3 separate regions of the Homo sapiens genome follow, and all the other regions are linked to region 3. The links come from fine-mapping of genetic effects on gene expression. A gene starts in region 3. Each other region holds a variant in brackets. All regions are shown on one strand. Distances are from middle to middle. Region 1 has its middle 14 kb from the start of SLC38A11. Region 2 overlaps SCN3A (sodium voltage-gated channel alpha subunit 3). Region 3 holds the start of SCN3A (sodium voltage-gated channel alpha subunit 3).

What was found. PIP is the estimated chance that this variant, and not a neighbour inherited with it, causes the effect.
Region 1: its variant is fine-mapped to the expression of SCN3A in skeletal muscle (GTEx, PIP above 0.99). The same link has a PIP of 0.9 or more in esophagus muscle, left ventricle and thyroid.
Region 2: its variant is fine-mapped to the expression of SCN3A in whole blood (TOPMed, PIP above 0.99).

Annotation. Positions count from the first base shown.
Region 1 is chr2:164,964,518-164,975,341 of GRCh38, forward strand. No RefSeq gene overlaps it. Among named protein-coding and RNA genes, the nearest start is that of SLC38A11, 14 kb to the left of the region's middle. The variant G/T (reference allele first, on the strand shown) is at 5,916.
Region 2 is chr2:165,144,442-165,155,265 of GRCh38, forward strand. SCN3A (sodium voltage-gated channel alpha subunit 3) reads right to left here. Exons shown (of 28, transcript NM_006922.4): 11 at 10,011-10,217; 12 at 2,298-2,588. Among named protein-coding and RNA genes, the nearest start is that of SCN3A, 54 kb to the right of the region's middle. The variant G/T (reference allele first, on the strand shown) is at 5,152.
Region 3 is chr2:165,199,025-165,209,848 of GRCh38, forward strand. SCN3A (sodium voltage-gated channel alpha subunit 3) reads right to left here and starts at 5,026. Exons shown (of 28, transcript NM_006922.4): 1 at 4,799-5,026.

The sequences.
Region 1 (10,824 bases), 230 kb before region 3:
GGGGGCTTGGTACCCTTTAGTATCTTTTAGTCAACGTGATCTATGAAGGTTACACTAGAATAAGTAAGAGCTCATTTACCGATTTTGATCTTTTTTCTTCTTTTGTTTTAATGAAGTTCCATTTGCATTATGTCATCCCTGTATCAGTTCAATTTGGCCTGGACAAAGGACATTGTATACCCTTAGGATGGGTTGGCCAGGAGGACCAGATTCTGGCAAGGTAGTACACTTGACAGAGACTACTAAAGAACATGCAACCTGGGGCACAGAGTGGAGTGGAACCTTGGCAGTAGAAGTATTAGGGACAACTGTGACTGTGCATCCTCTCCCAGCTACAGCAGTGCCTTCTTATATATGATGTTTGCTAGAAATACTCTTTGCCACAAAGAATGACAGTGGTGCTAAAATCAGGAAGTGGGAGCAAAGGGACCAAAAAGACTTTGTGGTTAGAGACAAGATTGCCCATAGTGTAGAAATGTGAGGCTGGCAAACTTTCCCCACATCTCTGAATCTGACTTAAGTCTTTTTCTTTCTGGTCATGGGTAATTTTGTTTACTCCTAAAATACAATACTCGATCCTTTATTGCATGCCATAGCTAAGTATGGTTGTATCTGTGGGAATGGTAAGCTTATTGAGGGAAAGGATCACGTTTGTGTTGCTATTGATGAAGTTTTTTTTTTCCCCGCTGAACGTAGCATAGTGATTCACACAGTCACTGCTGCTCATTAAAAATGTTCCAAATGGAAGAAACAATCCAAACAGGAATTAGCAATTAAAAAGCCTTGTTGTTAAGTGACAATAAGATTCATGTGGACAGCAATAAGGACCATCAGGAGAACATTTAAGTAATGAAATTATGATGTTCATTTGCCTCTAGGGCCTCTAAAAGACAGAAAAGCCTGGCTCATCTCCATTTACTAATGCAACCAGAATATTTTGAAAAATACATTTTAGAAAAGAGTGATACAAAATTGTGATACATTTCTAACCATTTGACAAATTAACACTTTGTTTTTAAACCCAAATGTAGTGTAATATTATTGTTATTCATACAATAATTAAAGGATGTGTTAAAATTATTTATTTATAGTGCTTAAAATGGGGTGGTGTTATAATGGGTCATAAGTTTAAGATTAAGAGTGACATGTTTTAATTTTAGTGTATCTATGCTGCTGTAGGTGTAACTGCCCAGTGGGTTCTTCCTGCCTGCTACGCAAACAAAATCAATTCACAGAGACCATGGCATTTCAGTAAAAGAAGAGTTTAATTGACATGAGGCCAGCCATTGCTATGTGGGAGATGGAGTTATTATTCAAATCAATCTCTCCAAGAATTTTATGGCTAGAGTTTTTCAAAGGTAGTTTTGGCGAAAGGGTGGGGGTGGCGAGGCAATAGGTGCTTGCTGCTGATTGGCTGGGGGTGCAATCACAGAGATGTGGAAATGGTCTTCCTGTGCACTGAGTTGCTTCTGGGTGGGGCCACAGAAGCTAGTTTTTGGTGGGTTTAGGTGGGGCCGTTGGTTATGAAACATGCAAAAAAACCTGAAAAGATATCTCAAAAGGCCAATCATAGGTTCTGCAGTAGTGATGCTATTTGCTGGAGTAATTGGGGAAGTTGTATATTTTGTAATCTCCAGAATAATGGCTAGCAATCCTTTATGTCTGCACCTTAGCAGAATTCAGGCTCTTCTATCCTCTTAGCCTGGTGGTCTTTCCTTTGCTTTACAAAAGCAGTTGAGTTTATGGGAAGGACTATTATCACTTAAACTGTAAACTAAATGTTTCCCAAAGTTAGCTTCGCCCAAGTCCAGGAATAACTAAGGACAGCTTGAAGGGTTAAGGCAAAAGCTGGGTGGCTAGATCGGATCTCCCCCACTGCCAGTATTTTCTTACTGATACAATTTTTACAAAGGTGGTTTCATAGATATAACATCACTAATCTGAGGCTTTTCAAACATTGAAAGCTCAAGCCAAATGGCCCTTCTCAACTGCCTGTGACAGACCACTGTCTATCTTAGAAGTGTTTAGTAGAAATGTATTAAAAAGATGCTAAGGACACCCAAAAGACTAGCAATTGAAGTTATACATTATCCACTCACATTTCAAAAGGATTATCTACTCATCCTCTATAAGGAGGGGAAAGAATGTGCTAGGTTTCACAAATCAGACCCAATGCTGAAATTGCCCCAGTAACATATCTGAAAGCTCACAGGCTGTGATTAGGAAAACAATGTAGGATCTATTGAATATGCCTACATTTCTCATTTTTGATCATTACTAGTTACCAATAAAGATTGTGTGTGTGGCATTCTATAGATTCTGAAAACAAGATATGTATGCTCTATAGTTTGGAACCAATGTTCATTATAAGTTGACTAACTTGATTAGGTAGAATAAGAGATGTACCAAATGAGTGAAATAGATATATTTGTTGGAGCAATTTAGAGGAAGTAATGATCATAAGAGGGTGGGGTGGGTGGTCAGTGATATTTGATGGAAGGCTGGAAACGTGAAATTTAGCCTAGCAAAAATGAAGTTTAACTTACAAATATAACATCCTGACCTTGAATCTGAAAAACCAACTGTATAGGTGCAAGGTAAGAACATGTGTGTTATCTCCAACTCATTTCTAATACTGCTTTTAATTAACAAGAAGTTTAAATAATGCAACAATTTAATGGGGCTGAGAAAAAAGTCTAACACAGTCAGGTAAAGTACTTGTAATAAATTACACAGAACAAGGATGACAATAATCCAGGCCATCTGTGTTGGTCACACCACACATGGACTATTGTTTTCAGCTCTGGAAGCCACAATTTGAGGAAAGTTACAGATCAACTGGGACATTTACAATTGAGAGGGATCAGAATAATGAGAGGATACTGAGTCTCACAGTGCTTTAAGTAGCCAGAGAATAAAGACTCAGAGGTTGAAAGGCTCACTCAATATAACCAATGGCTTTAAAACCTAATTACTTAGAGATGTCTTGGGATAAACTGAGTGGTAAATTATTACTAGAGATATTTAAACCTGAGCGTGACCACTGGGCAAGGACATTGTAGGGGATGACGAAGGATAGAAAGGATGCTAGGTGTTCTCCTTTGCTTGTGAGTAAACAAAAACCTACTTGAGCTTCTTTAGGAATGGGGAAAGTGGTGATTAGAAAAATTTTTGTAATGAATCTAGGACTAGAAAATTTGTCAAGATTCCAAGTATCCCTAGATTTTTCTTTTCTCTGTCTGTCATGGCCAGCGTGATCTTTTTCTCATGGAATCTTAGCTTTTATCTGTAGGGCTACTTCATTATTCTCTTGCAACTGACTGGTTAGTCACTGAGTTCTCTGGGGAAAATTCCAGAACAAGTGAGTCTGACAGGCTTAGCTACATACCTTTGCCTCCACTGAGCACAGCTTGTTGAACCACACCTCCTCCTAGGAGGCTGCCAGCTGTTAAAAGATAAACTTAAGCACATTAACATTTTAAAGAGTTTATTTGAGCAGACAGTGATTCATGAATTCACAGTGCCAAACCACAACCAGGTTGGGCTCCACTGAAGGGGAATAACGGAAAAAGTTTTATTAGGTGTTCTCGGAAGCAAGACAAAGAAAACATTTGATTGGCTAAAGTAGGCTTAAAGTCCCTAGTTAGAGGTTAGTTGGCAGTTTCTGATTGGTTAAGCTTAAGTTCATTTTCCTAGGCTATGACCATTCCCTCTGAGTTGGGTTTGAGTTCGCATGTAGGAACTCAGGGGACTAGAGCCACCTCAGTTTGATGGTTTCCCAATTAATTATTTTAACACGGCCTAGGGATGAGCTCTTCTTGGGCTAGTTACCAATCCCTTATCCAGTCAATGGGCCATTGTGCCAGCTACAGTGGCTTCCCTACAAAGCAGTAGGGAGTGAGAATGAAGAAAACAGCTTGAGCTAAAGGTGGGTTTGAGCAGTGGCCTGCAGTATGGTTCATACACATGGAAACACTAGATGGCATTAAAATTCCTCTACCACTTGTAATTCCTCTATTCCATGATGCTAGTGTTACCGGAGGGTCTTTGTATTTAGAACTCCCACGTTGGTGGCGGCTGCTCCCAAGATGGCGGCAAGCCTTTTGTTCTCTGACCTGGGGTTCTTGGCCTCATGGATTCCAAGGAATGGAACCTTGGGCCATGCGGTGAGTGTTATAGCTCTATTAGAAGCTGTGGGTCACGGAAGAGAACCGTGGAACCCAGCCACTAGTGTTCAGCTCGATTAGGATGAACCCAGGCACTTAGCCATGCAGGAACAATGGCAAGCCTCTAGCCCGATCGGGAGCAGCATTGGGTGCCTCTCTGGATCAGAAGTGCAGCAGACATCCTTCCAGATTCGGAGGAGTGGAAGTCAGCGGCAGGTCTGCGATAGTGGCGATCAGCAGTGGTGGACGGGGAGCATAAGCTCAGCTCGAGCTGGAACAAACACAGACCAGAAGAGTGTGCAGTTGCAAGATTTAATAGAGTGAAAACAGCTCCCATACAACGGGAGGGGACCAAAGGGGTTTCCCAATCCGGCTTGAATGCCTGAGTTTATATCCTGATCATTGTCCCTCCCCCTGTGCATTTAGGTGATAGATGATTTGACTATTTCTTTTTTCACCGAATTGGTATTTTAGTGAGCTCTCTTTACTACCTAATGGGTCGGGTGTGAGCTGAGTTACAAGCCTCGTGTTTAAAGGTGGGTGTGGTCATCTTCCCCAGCTAGGCTTAGGAATTCTTAGTTGGCCTAGGAAATCCAGCTAGTCCTGTCTCTCACTAGTAGGATTAGAATTCGACCTTATCATTAAAAATGAGATAAGGAGAGGGTATTAGTCCGATCTCATGCTGCTAGGAAGAAATACCCAAGACTGGGTAATTTATAAAGAAAAGAGATTTAATTGACTCACAGTTCCACATGGCTGGGGAGGCCTCAGGAAACTTACAATCATGGCGGAAGGGACCTCTTTACAGGGCGGCAGGAGAGAGATGTGCCAGCAGAGGAAATGCCAGACACTTATAAAACTATTAGATCTCGTAAGAACTCACTCACTATCACAAGAACAGCATGGGGGAAACCACCCCAGGATTCAATCACTTCCCATCAGGTCCCTCCCATGACATGTGGGGATTATGAGGATTACAATTCAAGATAAGATTTGGGTGGGGACAAAAAGCCTAACCATTTCAGGGAGAATATGACAATTCCTGATATGGAGAATAAGAAACATGTATCACTGGGGTAAATAAAATAGTAAGGAGAAAGGAGTTTTTGGAATCAAATAAAGGTAGATTCTGATTAGTTTTATTATCATTTCTCATTACTTTTTAGTTTATAATATTGTCTTTTATTACATGCTTTCCTTCTGTTAACTTTGGGGGTACCACGGGCCTATTGCTAGACAAACAGTAGCAAAGGTGCACAATTTGCAAAGATGTAAAATATATTTTTGAGATATGAAGCACTATGAATGTTTCATGAGTTAAAAATAATATGTCATAGTAAGTGGCTTCATTCTTATTAGCGGTTGATTTCTCTATATCATCCATGTGAGAAAATGAAGTGAAAGCAAGAATGCAACAATGCATGTTTCCCCCTTGATTTCTTGGTATCTCTACCTTTTAAAAAAATTTTACAGAATACATTTGTTTTTAATTTCAGTTCATCTTTCTTTTACCCCTTCCTTAGCTGTGTTCCTTTCTCAAAGTTCTTGCAATCTACTTCTTACTCACATGAGACCCTAAGGTATTTTCTAAAAAATGTCAGTATGAACAAAGTGACCACTTGCCATAGGAGCTCAGCCTGACTTTTAAAAGAAGTTTTAAAATAGCATGGGTAAGAATCATATGAATCCATTTAGATTTGTTATAAATACTACTACCTTTTTCAACTCAATGTCCAAAAGGACCTTCAT[G/T]CCCCTAAGGGCTAGAAAAGGAAAAACTCAGACAGCAGCCACATTCCCATGACCTTGCTTTGCAGGGGCCTGACCCAGATGTGGTGGGAAGCACAGGACAGCAAATCTCTTGCTGAATCTTTTTATGCATGAGGTTGGCCTGGCCTTAAACGTCCCTACTACAATGACTTAAAAAATGGTGATTAAATAATGTAAAACATATTGCCAATAAAATGTAAATTATCTAAAGGAAAGAAGCTACAGACTGAAAGATTGGAAATGTTTAAAAGTAGCAAAATCCAAACCAAACCGTAAGAAGACAGTGTGGAGTGTGTGTGTGTGTGTGTGTGTGTGTGTGTGTGTGTGTGTGTTGTAAGAATCAGGTGGTGTGTCCTACTGAAAAGCCTGTGCATTTTACCAATTGGTGCCTTTTGGGGAAAATAAGAGCAATCTAACAAGTCTAATGCATACACGCATATGTGCACACACACACACTCACACAGAATTTAAATGCCGGAGAAGAGCGAAAATAAACCATGTACACTGTTCCCTTTAGCTTAAATAGCCAGTGGCTATCAAGGCACCATAACTCCTTTTAGATTCAGGTACACGGAAAAAAAACCTTTTCATTTGTATATTTTTCTATGCCCTAGTTAGAAGAAATATTTTCCTCTTAGAAATTCCTTTTGAAATAATTTTCTATTCCACAGCAAACTCTGGAATTATTACTGTTCCATTATTCATTTGTTATAGGTTCTGTTTTGGTTCAAATTATCTCTAGTTACTTTTCTGTTAAGCTACTAACTGACATTATTTGAATCTGATAAGATTCAAAGGAGGCAACTTAATTCCTTCAGTGATTTCAGTGATAATAAAAATATTCACAAGAAACATGGTCTTTAGTAGTTAAAGGGTTAATAATACATATGCATGATACCAAGTTCTGGTCCTTCACGAAACAGGAAGTCCGGGTTCCAGGATCAGTATTGTGAAGAGCTCAGATCTTCTGGGTTGGTCAATTGGGCTACACAGTATCTCTGGAGAGTGGCATTTGGGGTCCAGAAAATGGTGCAAACATTTAAAAACTTTTTCATCATGTCACCAGCTAGCCCAAATAGAACCTGTCTCAGATGGAAATCTAGGAATTTCTTTTTCTTTCTTTGCTAGCTTCCTTTTTCACCCCTTCCATCCATCAATTTCCTCAATCTATCCTTTCTTCCTCTTTCTTCCCAGAGACTGGATTCCATTTTGGATGGAGTGGTATTGAGTCTTTACTATTTCATGTCAGGAGATTTAGGTCCTTATCACTGTGCTCAGTGGAACAAGGAAAGGCTGATGCTTCTTAACACTATTAACTGCTACTTATGTATTTACATGTGCACAGTTTCTATTTGCTCTTCTTAAAACACCTTCCTCACCATTTTAATTTGTAACATCTCCCCCTCCCCACATACATCCTTCAAAGCAAGGAGCACGAGCATCTGCAGTTTTACGAAATTAATTGACTGAGATGGTGGCGGCGTCAAGTTTTTTTTTTAGGCAATCCAATTGGAACCAGAGAGGAGGAGAGTGAGGGTGATTGGTGGTGTTACTTGTTTGTCTGGAAGTTGCACTAGCATAGCAAACATATTGTAATTAAGACACTACTTTTTTTCTCTCTCACTTTTCCCTTTAAAATTTATTCAATGGGGAAACGTTTTCCTGCTACTGAATGACATTTCCAACAGCCCCCATGACCACTAGGCAATAGAGTCAGAGGGTCTCAATTTAGTAATTAAAGCTTTGCAGAGAAGCAGGTGGGAACCTGCAGTCTGGGAGGCAGTGGGAAGGCTGGTTGGCTTCGCATCTCTTACTTGACCCCCTGCCCTCCTCATTTTTGCCGAACTCAGATTTTGGCAGCTCTGGCATTTGAAAGTCTGGGAAAAGCCTCTCTTTCAAGTTCATACATGACTGATATTACTGTAAGCAGACTTCTTAAAAGATGAAAGTGTTCCCTTTCTCTTGTGAACTGATTTCATGGGTTCTGAAAATCCCTCTGACATCGCTGGTGGTTTCTCAACTCAAATTCCTGTCATTACCTCAAAGGTTGTTTAATTCCTCCGAAGCTCCTGGAAATCTTCAGAAAACTGAAGCACTGCACATTTTATTTATTTATTTATTTGTTTACTTTTGAGATGGAGTCTCTCTCTGTTGCTCAGGCTGGAGTGCAATGGCACGATCTCTGCTCACTGCAACTTCCACCTCCCGGGTTCAAGTGATTCTCCCGCCTCAGCCTGCCAAGTAGCTGGGATTACAGGCACCCACCAGCAGGCCTGGCTAAGTTTTGTATTTTTGTAGAGATGGGGTTTCACCATGTTGGCCAAACTGGTCTTGAACTCCTGACCTCAGGTGATCCACCCGCCTCGGCCTCCAAAGTGCTGGGATTACAGGTGTGAGCCATTGCACCCAGCCAGCACTGCACATTTTAAGTGTATGTTCTATGCGTTTTGAGAAAGGTACACATGCATGTAACCATCTTGCTAATCAGGATATAGACTATTTCCATCACCCCCAAGGAGTTCCCTTTTGCACTTTGCAGTCCGTCAATCTTCCTCTACCCCTTAGCTCAGACAACCACAAATCTACTTTTTTCCATTATAGATTAGATTTTCCTGTTATAAATTTTTATGCAAATAAAATAATATACGAAATACTCATTTGTGTCTGGCTTCATTAACATAGGATAATGATTTTGAGATTATTCATGTCAATCAGTGTTATCATTCATTGATTTATTTCATTGTTGGATGGTATCCCATTAAATTGATATACCACAATTTGTTCATCAATTTACTTACATGTTTTTGAGTTGTTTCCAGTTTTTAGCTATGATGAATAAAGCTGCTGTGAACATTCATGTACAAGTCTTCGTGTAGAAAATTGTTTTCTCTTGGTAAATACTTAGTGGTATTATTGGGTAGTATAGTAAATATATGTTTAGCTTTACAAAGTGCTGCACCATTTTAATCTCCCACTAGCAATGTATGAGTGTTCCAGCTGCTCCACATTTTTCTCAATATTTAATACTGACAACTTAAACTATTAGACAATCCAGTGGATATATAGTGATATCTCATTTAGATTTTAATTTGCAATTCACTAATGATATACTATTGAGCATCAGATCTTTCATATTGTACTTTAAAACTATTTTGCTAAGACACATACCCAGCATATGGAAGACCCTCAATAAATATTTATTGAATTTATACAAATTGAACACAGAAAATGCAGCTCATCAGAGGATTTGAGCTAATTTCCTGGCATTTATGAAATACTGAGCAAGTTGTCAAATGAGAGCACTTAAGCTAATTCTCAAGTATTTAAAAGAAAGTGTACATCCTCATCTGTCTACCAAATATGGTCTCCAGGCAATTTGCTCAAGGTCAAATAGTGGTGGAACAATGATTAGAAACTACACTTTGTCGTCCTCAATTTAATTCTCTCTATATTTGACTCAGGATAAATGTGAAACATTGATTTTTCATATCATTTTATTGAATGTATGTTTTATTCAATTACTGTTTTGCCACAGTATCTCTCCCTGTTCATTATTAAAAACTTCAGCTCTTGATAAAAACCTAATCATCACCTAAAATGTATTTCCTTTCATAAAAATGTATTTCAAGTTCCAGATACTTGATTAACAAATGAACCTTTAAATAAGTGTTTATTTGGGGAAACTAACATATTAGGTAGCAACTTTGTTTCCCATCTTATTATTTTATAAACAATTAAAGGTTAACCAATTCAAAGGTGAATTGCCTTAAATAAGAAGTGATCTATGTATTAACTCTGAGGCCTGTAATTGCATTTAGCTGTAACTCAAATGAGTTTTGTGTGTGCTGTGTGCAACTAACTGAAAGTCTGGGATGCTCCGTTGCTCAAGCCAGGGCATCAGTACCATTTAAATACTTTGTTAAGATCAAACAGCCAGCAAGAAACAATTCAATAAATATCCCTGGTTTCTACAAACAGAAGTTCAGATAAAAAATTGCCTGAAGCAAAATTCTATTTAGATGAGGAAACAGGAAATAGAGCATTATAATATAACTCTGATGTCAAAAACAGGAAACTTCTGAAAGCATCATTCATTTAGCAATTTTGATTAATTTTTTTAACCAAAAAAACTGCTCTTTTGTAGTACTTTTTAAAAGAGAAAAAAGGGGAAAATGCCTTACTTAGACCTTCGCACACATTTTATTATTCATTTCTAACATGGCACATCACATTGACAACTCGTTTTAAGTCTGAATTTTTCTTACTAAGTAATCATTTTGTATATGCTATTTTTTCCATTGAATTACAGTGTATGAGAGGCAGTCTCTCAAATCACCAGATAGAATATGTGACAATCCATTTAGTTTGTAGTCAATGTTCATTATTCCTCTACGTTTCTTTATTTTGGTAGTTTAATCATAGTTCTTAACAACTGCCTTGAAATTTAGAGATAAAAGTAATGTCTAATTTTGGTATCTTTAGTCACAAAAATAGCTGTGGAACAAACTGTAGACTAGGAAGACAGAAGGGTGAGTCTTCAGATATCCTATTTCATATTAGTTGAAGAAGATTTCTTAAAACATTCCTGTTTCTCCCTACATTTATTCAGGAATTGGTTGAGGGAAAAGGAAAGTAGAGAGAAATTCAACAGATACTTAATTTCTGGTTGGTGCTTTGCCTATATATTACCGTACTGTTGCATTACTGACACTTATTACAGTGTGGGGTGCTAGTTATTAAATGTAAAGGAATAACCTGATTTATTGTTTATAACACCCATAATTTAGAAATGTTGAAGATGAAGCTCTTCAGTTTAAATTGATAAATTATCCAAGGTTATATATTAATAATATGTGCTTGATTAAGTCAGTGAACTCAGATTTGGGCAATT
Region 2 (10,824 bases), 55 kb before region 3:
GCTCTTGCCTGTCTGTGGTTCACTCAGCTCCAGCAAACCAAGTCTACCAGTTGCTTCTTAAGCACTCCAGGCATGCTACCATGTCAGGGTTTTGCACTTCCTCTTTCATCAGTTTAGAATGCTGTTCCTTAAGAGAGCCTCTTTCTTTGCCTCCTCCAAATCTTTCCCAAAATGTCTTAATAGTGAGGTCATTGTAAACCACCCTATTTAAAATTTTACCTCCAATTATGGCTCCTGTTCCTCTTTTCCTGCTTACTTTTTTTTCCCTTAACATTTGTTACCTTCTAACACAGTCTATAACTTATTTATTTTATTCATTGTCCGTCTCCTTTGGAAAAAATTTCCATGAGGTCAGTGGATTGAGTCTCTTTTATTCTTTGAGGTATTTTCAGCATCTTGAACTATGCTTGCTACATAGTTGGCGATCAATAAATATTTGTTGATTGGACTGAATGAACTGATCTACAAAATTTATTTGAGCAAAATGATGAAACAATAAAGGAACTAATACTGCTATCAAATTATGTATATACATTTGTTAGTAATTGAAACTACTCAGAAGTTTGCTTTCCCTCACTTGAAATTCATTCACCGATTTTAACTTAATAAGAGACTTACTCTTTGTCACACAGATTTTCTATATATTGCTTAGTCCCCTAAATCTCTTTAATGTAGGTATTCTTACTTTATTTTACAGAAATTTTACAAAGTACAAGTGACTTGACCAACGTCACAGAACTAGTTTGGAGTTGAGATATGAACACAAAAGTTTGTGTTCACTGTAGCATCATTATGCTATAGTTTCATATACTCTTAATTCTAATAACTCCTAATAGTTTTAAGAATTCCAAAATATCAAAGGTGACTGTTTAAGAAAAAAAAATCTGATCTGAGGAACCAAGTTGCCCTTCAGAGCTTCAAGTTAATTCCAAATATGTTATACTGATTTGATAATATATTTTATATTTGTATTACACAAGATAGTAATAGTTGAATTTCTTGATATTGATGTTATCTGCAGAAAAATGGCTTTATCTTAAAACTCTTTGTGTATTCATGTCCATTTTGTTCTAATATGAGAATACAAGTTTTAAGTTATTAATATAGTCTACTTTTTTCTTTAAAAATATTTGTTTACATATTAAAGATAGATTATAAAACATTCACTGAGAACTTGCATATTACCTTTTCTCCCAACCAAAAGTAAATACTATGTTGAATTTTGTGTTTATTACTTCTGGTTTTTTTTAGAAGTTTCTTTCTTTATGAAAAATATATCATACCCCTTGGTTGATTTGCAGTTTTTGATTAAATTAATCTTATATATTATCTCTCAAAGCATTATTTTTAGGGTATAATTCTGACTCAAGATTGTTATGATTAGAAGCATTTGCAATTCATAGCACATGAAATTCTAATGGTGCCAAATAGTGTTCAAAGCCAAAATTGTACTTATCACAGATTTTGTAACTAATTATTCTTTACATCAGACATATGTAAACAATACATTAACTTACTAATCCATAAAACTTACTAAACATCAAATAATTGAAACTAGTTTTTACTCTTTTACTTAAAACTATGCTGAAGAACCAGGTAGTTGGCATTAAATCAGAGCAAAAATAGACTACCTTTGATGCTGTTCTCTTCAAGAACATTTAGGTCATAATTTCATTCTAATGTATCACGGCATGACCCTATGCAAGCAAAATGGAGACTCACCATAGTCCAGTTCTCTTAATCAAAGGATAAAGACAAAACCCAAAGAACACTTCTTTTCAAAATTTATATGTATGTTACGATCACAACTTTGGATAACAAAGGCAGAAACCCATTCTCAAAGAAAATAAGTTTATCTGGGGTCTCAAAATGGAAAATGTAAACAAGAGATTCCAAAACTCTCATTGAAAAGTCTGCTAGTGTAGGTTATATATATATATATGTGTGTGTGTGTGTGTGTGTGTGTGTGTGTGTGTGTATAGACACATATATACACACATATATATATACAGGTTGATATATAGGTTATATCAATATATATTATATATATCTATATATTATATCAATATATCTATCTGTATATATAATCAGTCTCAAAATGGTGAACATTTTATTAATGGTTTAATAAAAATCCCTTTGAAGACAATCTATTATAAGAATTTAAACAACTATATTAAATGTTAGTTCCCTGTCCCTCACTGAAGTCAGATAGTACAAAAGTGTACCAAAACAAAATACAAAAACTAAAAAGCAATAGCAATGACAAAGAAACCAGAGCACTTAGTAGAAAATCATACCTGATGAGGGGAGCAGAATTTTTTGTCACTGGTCAGTCTGTTTCCATCCATGGAGAAAAGGAAGCTGCTTCTTTTGACGCTGTCTTCAGATTCGGATTTGGGAAAGCTGTCTCTCTCTCCTTTGTTGTTTCCTTCAAGGTGCTCTCTCTGTCTTCTTTTCTTCCTTCGGTTCCTCCATTCTTTAGCACTTTTGGAACTCAACTTTGATGCTTCTGAAGAACTTTCCAACAGCTCTCCTAACCCACCTATTCCACTGAAATCTCTTGAAGCAGCTGATGCTGCCGCAACTGCCTGTCATAAAACAAAGCCAGGCACTATTTAGAACACAGAGCTTTGAAAACAGTTGAGTATGGTTAAAATATTGCCATTTAAGACTCATTAACTACAAGTGAAAAGTCTATCCTCTAGTCCTTTTATTTTGTCTCACCACAAGAGTTTACTTAACAATGACCCTTATGTTTTAAATCATATAAAGCAATATGCTAGTGTATGCATTAAAGCAAGAAAAATCTGGTTTTGCCTATCTTCTGGATTGTCTTTTTTTTGGGGGGGGGGGGTTGGTGACAACTGTTCTCTTCAAAGTGTCTTCTATACTTTAAAAAGCAAATGTTTTCTTCGTGGTGGTTGCTTATCTAACTACCATTCTGATTCCATCTGTAAAACGTTTCCTCCTGTGTGCACTTCTGAGCAGCTGAGTCGTATTTTTTCCCCTCTAAATCCAGTACAAAAGACTGTTTCTTTTATTTTTTGTGAACATAAAACATTTCAAGTGTCTACTATTTTACCTCCAGATGGAAGTAGGGAAATGTATTAGATAGCTTATCCTCTTCCTTCCTTTGAATTACATTTAGGACTGTAGTTCACATCTCTGTGATCATGTTACTCCCAGAGAATTTATTACATATCACTTAAAAAATGTTAAACGTTCATAGATTATTTAATATTATAAATAACAAATGATTAACATAGCATTACATAAATTCATTCAAAGGATTATGAGAACTGCTTCAAATATTTTCTTTCTATATTGCAGCACTAAGTATTCTTAAGCACTTTGAATTTCTGTACCTACAAATGAAACACAGTCAGCTCTGAGGTGAAACATGGCAAATAGTATTTTTAGACTGGAAATGATCTAACAATGACATACAGAGGATATGAAACAATATGGTGTGCATCAAAGCTGAGTTCTCATTAAGTATATTACTATTTGTAAATGTAACCACAGAAGTGAAAATAATTAAATTATGACAATATCAGTTAAACTTTTTACATATGTCATCACTAAATACAAACAAATCTAACTTATCTAATATATTATCTTTCCCATTAACTGTAAGCTAGATAGAAATTGTATCATTGTATGCTCAGTGACTAGTATGTCACCTGACATAAATAAGGCTCAGTAAATAATTGGTGAATAAAGATTTAAAAATGTACTTTGCTATCAATTGTCTCAGACACTGGGGTGGGGGTGGGGGAAGAACAAGACATACTTAACCTTGACTTTGATGCTTCTGAAGAACTTTATAGAACTTATATTTAACTTGCTACAGATAGCAAGTTGACTTTTCAAGACATCATAAAAGACTTGACTTTTCAAGACATCATAAAAGACTGTCATAACAGTCTATATAACAACATATTTTAGGAAGAAATGGAGATAAAACCTATTTATAATGCTTTGACAACACTTTGTGCTTTATGTTTCATCTTTCTTGAGAAGAAGCAAACTCTCCTAAGTAGTTTTCATTTTTAAACTTCATGTTTAAAAATTTAAAAAAGATTTTAAATCTAAAATTACTATGCTGCAAATTCTCTAGGATTACAATGATCTCAGGGAGGGAAACTTAGTACTAAATATGATTTTAAATTTATGTGTTTGACCAAGCAACACATAAAATGTAACATATTTATTTATATTAAGCACTATATTCATAATGGAAGCTCAAATCTAAGACTTGATATAAGACAATACCCAGCATTTAAATAAAACAGTAATTCAGAATTTAGATATTTATAAAATTTTATAGAGTCATATAGCCAGGTTTTTAATGGAATTATTGATCATCAGTATCACTTTTAATATAATTCATGATGTAAAATGAGAAATATTAAGTACATTTTATAACTCTGACTATATATGCAAAATAAAGTGAATAAATGAATCACTTATCTATAGCAAGTTAAATATAGTTACAGAGTTCTGGATACATATGAGGTACATAATATACACCATTTGTTGAAACAGTGAATATATATATACCCTTTCTTATCCAAATAAAGTCCTTAATTCTCTTTTCTATTTTATATAGACACAAACACACAACACACAGTGTTAATCATTTATTGACTTGTTTGTCCCTGCAAACAAAGGAAGTGGTGGTAATAGTCCCTTACCATAATCCTACAACTTATGTCCATTTAAATCACTTCCAAACTTTTTTTTTTTTTTTAGATGGGGTCTCACTCTGTCGCCCAGGCTGGAGTGCAATGGCATGATCTCGGCTCACTGCAACCTCCACCCCCGGGTTCAAGTGATTCTCCTGCCTCAGCCCCCTGAGTAGCTAGGATTACAGGCGTGAGCCACCACACCTGGCTAATTTTTGTATTTTTAGTAGAGACAGGGTTTCACTATGTTGGCCAGGCTGATCTCAAACTCCTGGCCTCAAGTGACCCACCCACCTCAGCCTCCCAAAGTGCTGGGATTACAGGCGCGAGCCACCGCACCCGGCCACAAACTTTGTTTTGCATAAGACATTATTTCCAAACCTATTCTGGGTAACAGTTCAAATAACTCAAAACCAAAACAGATTTCTAAGGCAACAAAGGTAACCTCAGACACATTTTCTGT[G/T]TCACTCATCAACTCAAATCTGTCATTTGTTCCACTTCCAGTGATTTGCCAGTTCCCTCAAAGGCAGATGTTTCCTGTCATCTCTCATGTCTGTGTACCTGTTTATACCCAACTCTGTGACACTACCAATGTCCTGCGTATGAGAATAACTGTGTTACTTTCACAGCCAACTTGCTGAATTCCTCTTTTAACAAATAAGAAATTTCACTTAATATTTACTCAGGAAATTACATTTTCTTATAACATTTTTGTGTGATTCAAAGTAGGCTCTGTAACTCACTGTATCTGTGTGTCCGTAAAAATATAACCACATAACTAATACTTTGTTCATTTTATGTATATAATCCAGTTAAAATCCCATTCAAAGCTACAAGACATTATACCTATTTCTGTTCTACCCCAATTATATTAGATTTCTTAAGAGCTACTATTTCGAATTTTGTTCTAGAGCTTACTCCCAAATTTTTTCCTATCAGAGCAATATAGACTGCTATGGGATATACTAAGCTGGGCAACATTAGGCACTTAAATATCACAATTTAAATGTCAAACACAATTAGAATGATCTAGGACAAAACATTGATTTCTTTGCAGGGTTTGTGTTTCTCCACATTATTTTCTCATGCCTACACCGTGACTAGCCCTAGGTGGCCCCTCAACCAATAATAAACAAAGATGGAAGTGATGCTAGCCTTCATGAAGTCATTGGCTAGATAGTAACTTTTGAAGAGTCGTAGGTGGTTAGGGAGACTTAAGCTACACTGCAGCATAAATGATCTTATAGGTGCACTAATTCTGTCTTTGCCTCCACTTCCTCCTGGCTTCAACATTGATAATTTACTAGTCATCATTACTTGTGTTGTCAATAAGGAACTAAAATGGATTTGGCACTGTGCTACTCCAATCAGTATTATACTTTACCTTGGATAAATTTAAATTTTATATGTATGAAGCTAAAGCTGAATCAAATTGTGATGATTTGGTCACTAAGATTCAGTAACTGACTACTAAGGTAATAGAACTGATGTTTTTTAGCCGAACTCATCATAATCATAGGTTCTTTAAACTTCTACTAGAAATAGTGCATGTTTATTTCTAAGTTCAAAAAGACTATACTCTTTTTAATTGATGTCATATTTTACCCTAAAATGGCTGCATTTTAGAATAAACTCATTATCTGTGTAGGATTTTCAAGCACATTAATTTGTCTTCTTTTATTAATGATAATAGAAAAACCCAGTGCTTTAAAATACAATCATATGCAATTTATGAACATTATTTCCTATAACACTTATTTAAAACCTTGAAATAAAGTATTTGCCCTGTAAATAGCTATTTTTATTTTATTATATTATAAATGTGTTTTATTTATGGTGACATAGAATAAAACTCTTAAATAATTCAAATGTAGAACTTTCTGGCAAGCATGAGGTATATTTTAAAATATTTTCAAGTTTCACCAAATTTGTTTATAGTTTTCTGTATAAAATCAATAAGGTATATCCACATTACTACTCTGTATCCAATGGTAAGATGAAAGTGGTCAAGCTAGCATGTTCAGCAAAAGCTATGCCTAGAGTTGAGCTCAATAATTCACTAAACAACTCATTGCTGTATCTCCATTACCCCAAAAAATGCCTTGAGAAAGGACCTAATGCTATTTGTTGTGCATCTTCAAAGTAACTCAGAATTGTTAAAAACTTAAATTTTGAATATACCAATTTCTGTTATATACTGTCATCCAAAGAATACTTCAAATATGTGGAGCCATTCATCTGAAAAAAATCCTCAAAAAAGTCAGTGCATAAAAATATTATTTGGATTTCTGCTTCTGGCCAAAATTGAGTAACAGAGACCAGATTTGCTCTCTCCTGAAGCAACCAATAAAACAGACAAAATACATGTTACAGTAGTTTTGAAGGCACTGGACATCAGATCAGGATGTTTTAAGATATTGGAAAATGGAAAAGCAAGCAAGTCAGTTCTATGCTTTTGTTAGCTTATGGCCTGGAACTTCCAGACTATGATGTAGAGAGGAAGTATCTCTGCAGACTCCATGAATGGATGAGATGAAGCTGAGTTTAGGAAAATCAGGGTGGTTGTATAGTTCACAAAACAGGGTACCACAGAGGAGAGAGTTGAGCAGAGAGAGAACTCTAGGGATCTTCTCAGGTTCCCCTTGAGTACTGAGAAGATTATTCACCAAGCATGTGTCTTAGAAAACTACCTGAGGCTGAGGATAAGAGAGAACACCACCTGGCAATCACACTGTGCCAGAACAGTGTCTGTTCCTACACTGGCAAACACTTCGTTTTAAATGCGCATTGGGTAGAGTATTAGGAAGGGTCTTGATTCACTAGTGAGGAATAATTAGTCTTAGAATAAATGGTATGCTGGTCCTGCCTAACAAATTTTCAAATGTTTAAAGATACAAAAGGATCAAACTGTGTAAACAACATAACTATGTCCCGAAACAAAGATCAATAATTTTTATGGGAATACAAAAATATCCAGCACTTAAAAAAAGTAAAATTGACAGTGTCTGGAATTCAATTGAAGATTGTCAGGAACATAAAACTGCAGGAATATGTGACCCATAATAAAGAGAAAAATTAATCAAAACTGACCAAGAAGTGACACAGATGTTCAAATTAGCAGACAGGGAACTTAAACAGTTGTTATAACTGTATTGTGTATGTTCACAATGTTAATTAGAGATATATGAAATATAAAAAAGACACAGATCAAGCTTGCAGAGGTGAAAACTACAATGTTTCAGATGACAAATACACTGGATGAAATTAGCGGCAGATTAAATGTTCAAAAGAAAAGATAATTGACTTGAAGACAGCAATAGAAATCATTCAAATTGCAATTGACAAATGGAGTTTAAAACTCATATAGAGTCTTTGCTATTGTGAATAGTGCCGCAATAAACATACGTGTGCATGTGTCTTTATAGCAGCATGATTTATATTCCTTTGAGTATATATCCAGTAATGGGATGGCTGGGTTAAATGGTATTTCTAGTTCTAGATACCTGAGGAATCGCCACACTGTCTTCCACAATGGTTGAACTAGTTTACAGTCCCACCAACAGTGTAAAAGTGTTCTTATTTCTCCACATCCTCTCCAGCACCTGTTGTTTCCTGACTTTTTAATGATCGCCATTCTAACTGGTGGGTGGGGGAGGTGGGAAGGATAGCATTAGGAGGTATACCTAATGTAAATGACGAGTTAATGGGTGCAGCACACCAACATGGCACATGTATGCATATGTAACAAACCTGCATGTTGTGCACATGTACCCTAGAACTTAAAGTATAATAAAAAATATATATATATGAAACTTAGAAAAAAAACTCATACAGAACTACAAGGGACATAAAACAGCCAAAACAGCTTTGAAAAAAAAAAAAAAGAACAAAAAGTTGGGGACCTGCACTATGTTATTTCAAGACTCGTCATAAAAGGTACAGGAATTAAGAGAGTGTGGTACTGGTATAAAAATGACAAATAAACTAAACAGAATAGAGTTCAGAAATAGACAAACTCACCTATGGACAACTAATAATTGACAAAAGTTCAAAGGCAATGCAGTGGAGAATGAATATTTTGTTTTTATGCAGTTGGAATAATTAGATACTCATTTTAAAAAAGTGAATCTCAACATATCACTCATATGTTATACAAAAATTAACTAAAATGGGTTATTTACCTAAATATAAAGCATAAAACTAACTTAAGAAGAAAATTTAGAAGAAAATACTCATGGTGTTGACTTGGCAAAAATTTCTTAGATCCAAAAGAATGATTTAAACAAAAAAGCTAAGAAATAATACTCTGGATAAACTGCACTTTAAATATTTGAGAAGCATATATGTGATATAGGACTTACATCCCAAAGAGTCAAAGAATGCTCAAAACTCAATAATATGAAATCAAACAACCTAACTAAAAAAAAAGGAGGGGATTAAAGATTTGAACAACCACTTCATAAAAGAAGCTATACAGATGGAAAATAAGAACAGAAAAAGGTGCTCAACATTAGTAATTAGGAAAATGAAAATCAAAACAGAAATGAGATACTTATTAGAATGGCTAAAATTAAAAAGACTGGCCATACCAAATGTTGGCAAAAATATTGAGAAATTATAATTCTAACTGGCATGAATCAGATTTTTACTATATATTCGTGAGTCTTCACCTTTCAGTATATGGATTTTTTTTTCTGTCTTTTAATACAGTACTGTGTTTCCGTCTCTTCTCCTCAACACATTAATGTCCCATTCACTATACCCCTAGCTCACACAGCCTTTAATATTAATAAAAATCTCAAGTTGGCATCTAACTTTAGATACCTTCCTGATATCCTGATGTGGGCTATAGCAAACATTTTTTTTTTTTTTTTTTTTTGCTACAGAAATCCCAAAGAATTGTTAAGCATAGGTATATATAAAGTCTCTTGTCAACCTTTAAAATCAATTAACTTCAGAACAAAATCTCAAATGTCATAATTAGGGGTGAATCACTAATAATTGGAAATATCAGTTTTATTTCTTTTCTAAATTAAATAAAAAATTAAATTCCTCTCTTAGGTTCTATGAGACAATTCCATAGTAAACCTTATCTCTAATGTATTTTCTATCCGCTAGCTGATTTCTTTATATACAGTGGCTAAAAAGTTTGTTAGACTCTAACTTCAGAAACAAGTTCATATTTGAATACTTTTTTTTCTAATGACAATGCCTATATATAAAATGAAAAAGCAGTTCCAATCTACCCTCTATAGTATAACACTATTTCTACTTAGAAACTAATAATAATAATGATAAATCTTTGCTTTTATCACTCAGTACCTGAGCTTCTTCCTGTTGCTTTTTAAGCTGTTCGAGCATCTGCTGAAATTCGGCCTCTTTTTGTTCTGCTTCTTCCAAGGTGGCCTGATTCTGCTCCTCATAGGCCATGGCCACCACAGCCAGGATCAAATTCACCAAATAAAATGAGCCCAAGAAAATGACCAGGACAAAAAATATCATGTATGTTTTCCCAGCAGCACGTAATGTCTAGGGGAAATGGGGGATAATTCCATCAGTATTTTAGTATAATGTCCCCAAATAAATATCTGATTACCACAGTTAGATAGTCAGTAGACTAATTAGCTTTTTAGTATCCAGTTTATTTTCACCAAGAATTTTTTGGTATTGATATGCTCAACACACAAAATTAAGAATCAGATTATTTGAGGCTTGACTGCAGTCTTGTTGGATATAAATACATTTTAAACTCATATATAGTGGATATATATGTGAGCCCCACTATAATGCTTTTATTAGAGTTCATATGCAGAGCAATAATATGACAAGTAAGAGCACTGAACCTTTAAATCCTTTCAGTGGGATTCCATTTGCACTGCAGCTATTCTCCATACCATCTATAGATGACTTTTGCTCCCCTCCCCTTCTAGTCTCAGTTAATAGCTAGAGCTTTAATTTGAAATTTTCACATCAACATCACTGATTTTTAAAATCTTTTAACGTGCTGTTTATATACCAACAACTGGATTATCAACTTCTAAGAGTCATGAGCATCTCCAAGTTCCTAGCAGAATGCCTTTCACATAAAAAAGTCCTCAGTGTACATATATAGGTACTGACTCAGTGAGCAATTAGG
Region 3 (10,824 bases):
TGGAATTTAGTGAATTATTCCAGTTCAAGCTCTTTCTTGGGAAAGGAAAAGGACAAAATGTTCTGTACAACCAAAGTAAGAATAAAGTATATTCTGAAAATCAGGAGATTAAAATTCCCAAAAGGGAGCTTCTTGGCAGAAAATGGTCAAAGTTATTTAAAGAGTGACTTTGAATTCACCCATTGAATAAAACAATATTAAACCACTATTTAATAATTAAGGGACCATCATTTCTCTAACTTTGCTCCAGCACAGAGTTTAATCACATGAAGGGCTCCCTATATGCAGTCTCCAAAAAAATGAAAACCTAATTCAATTCTTACAGAAATAACTCCAGATTTCATAAGGTTTCTCTGAACTAAAACCCCTGAAAATTCATTTATACAACCACACCCAGCATATGTTTACATGTGCTGTATTTTAATATTGTAAACTTGCTTGCAAGTTACTTTTCAGTTGTTCTTTATTCATAGATCTTGGGTAAAACCTTCTTTAAAGTTCTTTCCAGAATGTCCTTTATCATTTCAAATCCTTACAGGAAAGAAGTGGGATATTAAAAAAAGTAATAAAAAAAAAAAATACTTGGCACATTGAAACTTGTGGTATCCAGTTAAGTAGGTATTCATATAAATTTTAAAGAATTATTCTACTTTAACAAATTATATTTCTGATGTAGATTCAGATTTTAGGTATCCAAAGAGCTGGTGCCTATCAGGAAGTTAATAAAACAAAGTATGTCTGTGCTTAGTAAAAGAGCAAGATTTTATTTATTGCTGTATTATTAAGAGGAAACACTATTCTGCTCCGAAATAGGTGTCTGCACTTGTTACATCCCATTAAAATATAAACAAAGAATGTGTTAATTTCATCCCAGAGGGAAAAATATTTTCAGGTAAAGCTGAACTAAAACAGTAGCTTCTCAATCAAAGATAAATGTGTGAACCGACAATATAAAGCAAGAATATGATTTTCTTTCTTCCAAATTTTCTAACTACCTCAAGTTACAATTGTTCAGTCTACCTCAAGAAGTAATTCAGATGTCAGGTTCTATATGGATTTGCCATGAAAGTTGTTTATAAGGTAAAACGTAAGCATGACATTTTGAAAATGAAAGCAGTTAGAATTAAAATTAATCGAAAATTTAAAACGAACCTAAAAGTACAGAAATAGAGTTAAGTAATTATATTTCACTGGTAGGTGGGTAATTAATCCTCACAGTTTTGGAAAACTGGTAAAACAACCATTAATATTAAGGTGCGAATGAATAATATATTTTTAGGTGACAAATGAAACATGAATTCCCAACCTTCAGTGAGTTCATGTTTCTATACATAAATGAAAATCAGAAAAAAGTAATCTTCACAGCTACCTATGTAAAGAAATATCACTATATAATCAAGTGTTAATTTCTTGGTGAAAAAAAATCTTTAAATGCTTATTCTTATGGATGCTTTTAGTTATCATCAACCCTAAAGATAAGAACTCGTAAGAGCTGGGAGTGACCTAGAACTGAGAGACAGATGAGCAACAAATTCCAAGCACCGCATTTGTCTAGTTGAGAAACACTACCCTCATATTTTTAAGCCTCCCAAGCTCTTAGCCCTCTCAGATCTGCCTAATCAAGAGTCCATTAAGTCATCTTGGCTGCCATGAAGATGAAGCTGACAGCGCAGTTACTTGAGTCAGTTTAAAGAGGCCTAGGGTGGTTGAAGGGAAGGATTAGGAGGCCTGGGGTGCTGAAAGGTCATCCAAGTTCTAGCTCCCAAAGACCCCAGTAGCACACAGCTGTCAGGAGCACGAAGCTACACTTAGAAACAACCTTTGGAGGAAAGCAGGGATTTTGCAGTCCATCAACCATTCATCAAGCACAATTTGCCTTTCCACATCTTATTGTACCGTTAATAGAATTGAAGCATTAGAGAGTTTGTGAGTTGATCACATAGCAAAGACTTTCCTGAGATTTAGGTTCAGTTATCTGGTGGTCTTAGTAGAAATTACTTGGCGTTTAAATGTGGTTTTGGTGAAACCTAGATTCCCTTTGTGAATCTTTACAGAAACTTCGTCTAACAGGTATATCCTCTTAAGGCAACGTGAAATAAGGCCCTTTGCCTCTATTTTCATAAGAAGAAGAAAGTTTTGAAGTCCGTGATAACATATTGGGCATAAATAACTGTCTTCTGGAAGGCATTATGAGTTCTATAAACTCTCCAGGAATTGCCTGGAATGTTAACACTAAGTGATACTATTATAGGTACACAATTGTTGTTGTTTCAGCAAGGGCATCCTTCCAGGATGAGAATTATTCACTTTTCAGGTACATAATTATTTGGCAGTTTTATTCTATCCTTCCTGTTGTGGTGGAAGATATTATATCACCAGCACTAACGATAACAATAATAACAATGATGAAAATTTATGCCTTTATGTTTGTCCTGTTCCTTTTGATGTGAGTTAGGATGGCAGGGAGAGAGAGGAAGGAGGTTCGTAATCATGTTCCAGGATCTATACCAAGCACTGAACAGACATTATTTTAGTTACACAATCCTGTAACACAGGCATTATTATTCCTATTTTAAAGATGATGTAATAAAGGCTCAGAGAGTTTAAATAACTTGTCAGGTAATAGTGGCCATAAAATGTAACCTGCCAAGCTCTTGCTCTTAACCACTTCTCCATGTTGTTTCCTGCTTGTTTCCACTACAGAAGGAACTGGCCAAGAAACGCCCCTATTTCTCTATTTTACCACTTTCATGTTTAGCACATCAATCATAATTTACAACTCAGTGAGAGTCAAAGTTGTATCTTAATTAAGCTGAGAAACCAACTGAAGAAAAATCCAAATAAATGAGGATCAGAAAATTTTAAAAACAAAGTATTCTTATACAGCTTTGATTCTAATTTCCTTCCTTTGTAGGCAAGGAAAATGCTCTTCAGTGATACTTGGGGTCTTTTCTGAGACAACAAAACTCACTAGTAGCAGAACATGAACCAGATCCCAAGACTTTCAGCTCAGGGTTCAACCTTTTTATCTTCAGTACTCAAATAAATCACAGCATTTTTCTCAACTTTACAAATGAAATCACCACTACATTCTTTTAAAGAGTAAGTTATTCAAATGTGTTTGATATATCATTTAATCAAAGCAGGTTTAATTTCCGAAATTTTTGAAAGAGCGCATTTTGTGAAGTGAAGAACTCTGAGTGTATTTGCTTTTTCACATGGCGACCACATGTATAGATGAATAACTAAGAGACTGTTGCAACTATACCAAGAAAAATAAAAGCTAACATTTGGGGCCAAAATTAAGCATTCATTCATAAATGTAAACCAGTTCAATCAAGACCAGCTCTGATGCTTACTCAGAACAAAGTTACTCACATTTAGTCACCTGTAGAGAAGCATGGTGTGTACAATACACTCAAGTTAATTAACAGCCATTTCTGGGAACCCTGTCCAAAGAAATAGTTTTCTTTATCTCCTATGGTAGGAATTCTTCTGAAATAGACAAGACCCAGGGCTCTCCTCTCAGGCAACCACTATTTTGAAATGTTTTTGGGGGGACTATTATTGCTACTCAATGTAAAATATTAAGTGAGATGTCAATATTTTTCAACATATCATTAGGAATTACAGTTTGGAGGCCTTAAGTTCTATTTTTGAAGCCCTTTTAGCCAGTACTGACTGGAAGCCCTGTTGAAATCAGAAGTCTTCATTTCATATAGGGCACACTCTATTTGGAGTGAATGTGATGAAATGTTTCCATGCAAATTCCTACAAGCACTTATGCCTTTATCTTTGTCCTCATAAGCCACATTATACTACCTGTTGTGTATTTTAAAACCCTGTATGATTTTTAAAACTTATCTTTCAATTAATATGTATAGATTTTCTGTCAATAATTTCTTATTCTAATTATGTGGTGGCTAACTGAATGAAACATTTATGGTTATGATATAGAATATTCTAAATACAACTACAGACAATATGGATCATAGATAAAGTAAATTATTGTTTTATGGCTCCAGTGGTTCTTCCTGGTAATTAATAAAAATAAACAGTTATTAAATATATACAGAAAAACAGCAATCTATCAAGCTTATAGAACAATTAAGAATATATAATAATCTTTAAATCAATAAATTAAAAGGTAAACATTTAATATAAAATGAATATATTAAAGGATAAAGAAGTAGCATATTATGGAACATATAGAGATTATTTTATTTTTTGAAGGTTCAACCTCTTTTAAATGGTTAGTATTGGTGTTCTTTTCTCTATGAAAACAGATTTTAGAGAAAAATGATAGTGTATTTCACAAAGCCAAACACCTCTATATTGTTATCACTCCCTATATGCATGGCCTCTCTAAAGCTGTTAAATAAAAAACTAAAGCACAAGAATGATAGTTCCAATTTCACTATACATTTATGTTTAAAAAATACTGGACACACTGGGCATTTAAATAGATGACATACAGCCAGGAAACTCATTAGACTAGCTTTAAGTATAATAAAAAATATTTTTTCTGAATACAATTAATCATAAGCATCTACAAAAACACAAGACCATTGATGCCTAGTATGTACCATAAATCACCATTTCCAGACAGGCTCTATTTTCTTTGAAAGATAAAGAAATAGTAAGCAGTTTACACATCAAACGATGCCTTTGGTTCCTGTAATTTACATTTAAACAACACTGGGTTAAAAATAGCAGCATGAAGATGATTTTAAAGTAAGGAAAATGACCTGGTAGCTAGGTTCTATGGTGCAGATAATGAAATGTTTTGTCAGCTTACCTGATAAAACAGAGCCTTATGAATTACAGCATAACAAAGCCCAGCATCCAAGATGGTTAGGGTATAACGTGTCTTCCTCTGCAGCTGTTCAGCTTTTTTTTTTTTTTTTTTTTTTGACCACAGAGGTTTACAAATTAGTTACAATTTTTTTTCTTTCTTTCTCTGTGGATAAGAAAACAAAGAGACCTTTCCAGAATCCTCTCTGCTTATGCCTCCGCTTCCTGTTCTGAGATTCACTCTATGGTACCCAACATATATCAGAAAACAGCTTTGAGGAAAAAAAAAAAGAAAGAAAAAAAGGCCGATCGCACTCAAAGTGGTACCGCCATCTACTGGCGGACACACACAAAATTGAGCCAAAGAAAAAACATTCCCATTATCCTCTGTCACAGGGAGGAAAGTAAACCTGCATGAAGCATGGGTAGTCATGAAAGTGCCCCAAGATGACAGTAGAGAGGTGATGTGAGCTAAAATTTCCCAACACACTAAAAAAATGTAACTTATCTACTACATATAAATATGTATGAGACCTTTTACATATTCAGTTATTTGCATCTCACTAATTTTTTTAAAAAATTTTATCACTTTGTTGTTTTGCATGATTGTTTCACACATAAACTACTAAAATTAAAAGATATATAAATTACTGTTTGAAAAATAGGTTTTAAGTTTACATTACCCTTTACGTGTAGAGTTTTGCGAAAGCTCCCTTGTGGCCTGCTCTAGTCTTTTGAAAACCTTTTCTCTTCCTGGGATGAATTATTTTCAAGGTGAGGAATTTGACTCCTTAGAGAACAGTGTAAACACATACTCACTGATAGTATTTTTGTGTTGCTTTCTGGTAAAACATTTGCAAGAAATATCTAAATGTAGAAAAAGATTCTATACATCAGTGAACCTAGCTAATATTATTTATTAGGATATTGAAGCACACAATACATAAAGAAAATAAAAATAATCCATCAGTTATTAAGATATTTCTCAATCCAGATGTATGTTATTGTTTCATCTGACCTTTCATATCTACTTTAGAGCAAACAACTATGATTTTATTACAGTTTATCATCAATTAAATAAATACATTCATATTGACAAACCAACTGTATGGATGGACAAAAATGATGTCAAGTATTATATTAGACTTGAAAAGACACAGAGAGAAACACACAGTGCCTGCCATAAAGGAGCTCATACAAAGAAGAAAAACAAATATAGCTGATACCATATTTCCCAGCCATGTGTTCAAGAACTGTTAATTACATACTTCGTTTTCAATTGTGGCCCCCATTTTGTCTAATGGCAGAAAAATAAATCTAGTCAGTTCCAGGTAAACTAAATTACTTGAGGCTTTTCCCAATGATTTTGGGTTTGCATTCAACCAATACATGATTTTCCTCTTCTATCTCTCCTTCTCATGGAGACTGATCTAAGTTCAGGATTGTGTACATATATAGAGAAAGCAGAGTATGATCCCGTTCCCCCTTTCTCCACATGGGCATCCACTGAGGCCAGGAGTCCTGCATGATCCATGACCATCATTATCCCTCATATCTACTAACGTACCCACAGGCCCACTGGGCCCCGGGAATAGCATCCCTCCAGCTTTGCATGGCAGCATCCCCTCTTTGTCACTTCTTCCTCTAAGGAAACTTTTGTTCCTGTCCTTTAGGAGGAGAGAAGAAAAAGCAGCATGTTCCCAGGGTCACTCTTGGCTGTAATTGGCTGACTTAAGCCTTCCTCCCTGCCCCAGGCGCCTCACACAGCCATCTCTGTTCTGCTGTTTGTAAACCATGGGATGTAATGCACTCTGCAGGCTTCAGGCAAGCGAGGCACAATCTCTGCCACACTAGAATAGTGTAAATAGATGGAAACTTCTCATCTTTTCATCTTTTTAGCTAATCCTAGATTGGCAAACTATGTAAGGAGCCCTTATCAGAGACTCCTTTCCTTCTTCATAACTTCCTTCACAGACTCAAAAGAGTTTTTGCTTGGGTCTCTTCTTTCTGTACCAAAGGTAAGCTGGAGCCACTTGTTTTCCCTTGAAATCTTTTTGTCTTATGTCTAATGTATCAGTTTACTAGGGCTGCTGTAACAAACTGCCATCCTGAGGGGCTTAGACACAGAAATCATTTTTTTCACAATTCTGGCTACTCAGAGGCCAGAATCAAGTTGTCAGCATGATCATGCTTCCTCTGAAACCTGCAGGGGAAGGATACTTTCTTGCTTCTCTTAGCTTTTAGTAGCCCCAGATGTTCCTTGGTTTGTGGCAGCATAACTCCAGTCTCTGTCTCTGTCTTTACATGGTGCACTCCCTGCATCACTGTCTTTACGTACTCCTCCCTCTGTGCATGCCTCTGTGTCAAATTTTCTCCTCTTTATAAGGACACCAGTCACTTTGGTTTAGGGTCCGCCCTCATAACCTAATTTTAACCTGATTATCTCTGTAAATACCCTATTTCAAAATAAGGGCATATTCTGAATTACTCAGAATTAGAACTTTTTGAGAGGAGGCACAATTCAACCCCTAACACAAGAATTTAAATATAAAGCACAAGAATTTGACAATTCTTCTGTCCATCTCCAACGACAATTCCACTTAGGCAATAATAGCCTTGGCTATCTGGCCAGAATTGGGGAGGGTAGGGGAAGAGCCTCAGGTAATGATGAAGACATTTAATAATATTAGTAACAATAACAAAACTAACATTTATTGGTACTATGTGCCAGACATTGTTCTAAGCACTTTACATATGTTCATTTAAACTTCACCCATATGAGGTATTATTATACACACTTTACAGGTGAAGAAGCAATGAAATGTGAGGGAAGTAAAACGTAGTTAGTACCTGATATGGTTTGGCTGTGTCCCCACCCAGATATCATCTTGAATTGTCAGATATCATCTTGAATTGTAGCTCCCATAATCCCTACATGTCATGGGGGGCACCTGGTGGGAGGTAATTGAATAATGGGGGCGAGTTTTGCCCATGCTGTTCTAGTGATAATGAATAAGTCTCATGAGAGCTGATGGTTTTATAAAGAGGAACGTGTCCCCTGCACACGTTCTCTTGCCTGCCACCATGTAAGATGTGCCTTTGCTCTTCCTTCACATTCCACCATGATTGTGAGGCCTCCCCAGCCATGTGGAACAGTGAGTCCATTAAACCTCTTTTTCTTTATACATTACCCAGTCTCAGGTGTTTCTTTATGGCAGTGTGAAAATGGACTAATACAGCACCTCACATCTCATCCCAACACAAGCAGTTGTAATCGGGTAAGATCACTCATAATACAAGCATTTGTCAGATGCTGAAAGAACACAAAGGAAATCAGCTTCCACTAATTTAGATCATTGATACTCACACGTTTAGTGTAAATTTATAACATTTCATTGTTTCATTGTGTACACTTTCTGTCATGAAAGATTCCTATTTTCTAGGCACTTTTAACTTTTTCTTCTCTACTCATGAACAAACTAGCCCTGCTCACTGTCTCTCAACTAAATGTTCATTAAGTGCCAGTCCCTACTGCTCCACACTCATTTTACCATTACTAGTAATATTTAATAGAATATTAATTCTATCACTCAGTTTTGGGTATCCAGATGCTCCAAAGAGTTTTCTGATGACGTCTTCTGAGGAACTGATTTTTCTTAGGTTATACTGGGCCACATTTTAATGAGAACTGGTTTGAACAAAATAAGAAAAGTAAATGATAATTATTGTGGCGATATTCCTCATAGAAAAAAAGAAAAATAAATAAATGCCAGCAAAGAGAGCTTTACTCTTTGTTGCTGAAGAAACTAATTTATCTTGTCATTAAAAGTAGAAAATTATATAAAGGAAGAGTGACCAGAGGTGTGGTATCATTTGCTATGATTCTAACTTCATTGTGACTTTCGTACTTTTTTTCTGTAGACAGAACGACAGGTAGTTTGCAAATCTTCAGTGAGTGGATTCTGAGAGGGTTAAGGTGAAATAGTCATTGATTACCAACATAAGGTCTCTGGAGCCTTAGTGGTGTCTGACCATATGTTGTAAACATATCATGCATAAATCACAGAAATTCACACTAGAAGAGAGCTAATAGCCTCCAGCTGGGACTCATAGGTTGCTCTGTGCATGTCTACTGTTTCTGATTACTCAAGGTCTTCAGAGCCTTTGTGGGTAGGAGCTATAATGCTGGTTTCTATTTGATTTTATAAGCTTCATAGCCAAAGAATACTTTTTGTAACATCCATAGATCTACCAAAAGATTCCCAGACTCTGGCCCAATTTTCTTGTTTCCTAGACCATTATTTCCCAGACAGTGATTGGAGGAATACTACTGTTCTGCTGGACTAATGAAGTGCCACTCCACATCCACCAGAATGGCTACAACTTAAAAAGGCTTATCATACTGTTTGTGAGAATCTAGAGCTACAGAAGCTGTCAGAGACTTCAGGTAGGAATGTAAACTAGTATAACCACTTAGAAAAATGGTTTGGCATTACCAACTGAACGTGAGTCTACTCTGTGAGCCAGCAAGTGCCACTCTTAGGCATATACCTGACAGAAATGTGTGTGTGTACAAGAATGCCTGTGGAAGCATTATTGAAAACAGGTCAAACAAGAAAGAACAGAAATATCTTGAACAGGAGAATGGATATAAGAATTGTGGTGTATTCTGAATCTATAGTATCATACTAACATGAAAATGAAAAACTGCAGCTACCCACAGAAATATGCTGGATTTCACAAATCTGAGGCTGAGGACGAAGAAGGTATGTAAGCAAAACATTATTAAATTTAAAAACAGGACTGGGCGTGGTGGCTCAAACCTATAATCTCAACATTTTTGAAGGCTGAAGTGGGAGGATCACTTGAGCCTCCAGGAGTTCAAGACCAGCCTGGGAAAAATGGCAAGACCCTGTCTCTACAAAAAAAATGAAAAAAATAAAAATTAGTTTGGTATGGTGGTGTGCACCTGTCCAGCTACTCAGGAGGCAGAGATGGGAGAATCACTTGAGCCAGGGAGTTCCAGGCCACAGTGAGCTATGATCATACCAGTTCACTGCAGCCTGGACAACAAAGCCAGATTCTTGAAAGATAAAAATAAAAACAGGTTAAATAAACTCTAATATTGGAAGTAAGAGCATTGGTTTCTCTTGAGATAAGATAGAGCTTTTGGCAAGATTGGTTGAGATAAGGGCTATTCTGGGTACTAGTAAGATCCTATTTCTTAATCTGGGTAGTAGTTATATAGGAATTCACTTCCTGGTAATTCATTGAGCCAAACATTTATGCACTTTTTTGCATGTGGATTGTACTTCAAATTTCAAAGTAACAGGCGAGTTTTTTGACAGTTGTCACCTCTGAGGAAGAAAAAAGTAATGAAAGGTGAAATAAGTGGAATTTCCAGGATTTGATCTGTATATATCTGTTCTGTTTGAACTTTGTATGCTTATTAGTGTAATAAGAAGTGCATTATTAGTGTAATTTTCAAAAAATAAATTTAAGGCATTAAAAGTACAGTAAAGATGTACCTTCATACTATTTGTACTTATTTACCTCTAAGTTATTCTCTTTTTAAGTTGAGTCTAGGATGGCATTCATCATTATTTTAAATTGAGTCTGTCCTGGAATTCCTCTTATGCCAGAAGGCCTATTCAAGCTGATACTCAGCTTCTATGCTTCTGTCTTCAGTCATCTTAGTAACAAAGTTAACTACCACTGTGTTTGCATGTATGTTAAATAAACAAAATTTACATGTCATCTACAATTTCACACCTCTATAGTCTAGTTTAGATTTGTATCTCCTGATTGTAAATACTGAGACTAACTCACTTTTGCCCACTGCCTAATATATTATGCCATAAATTACACAATGAAATACATGACCTGACAAAAGATAATAAAACACTTTTACCTTTGTTACATCTTCTTCCTTTAAAACATCTAAACAAGTTGAGAAGGGTAGATAATTTTCAGATTTTTCAGGTGAGAAAAATTGGTACAGAAATGTGAAAATTACATGATGGTTAAAAA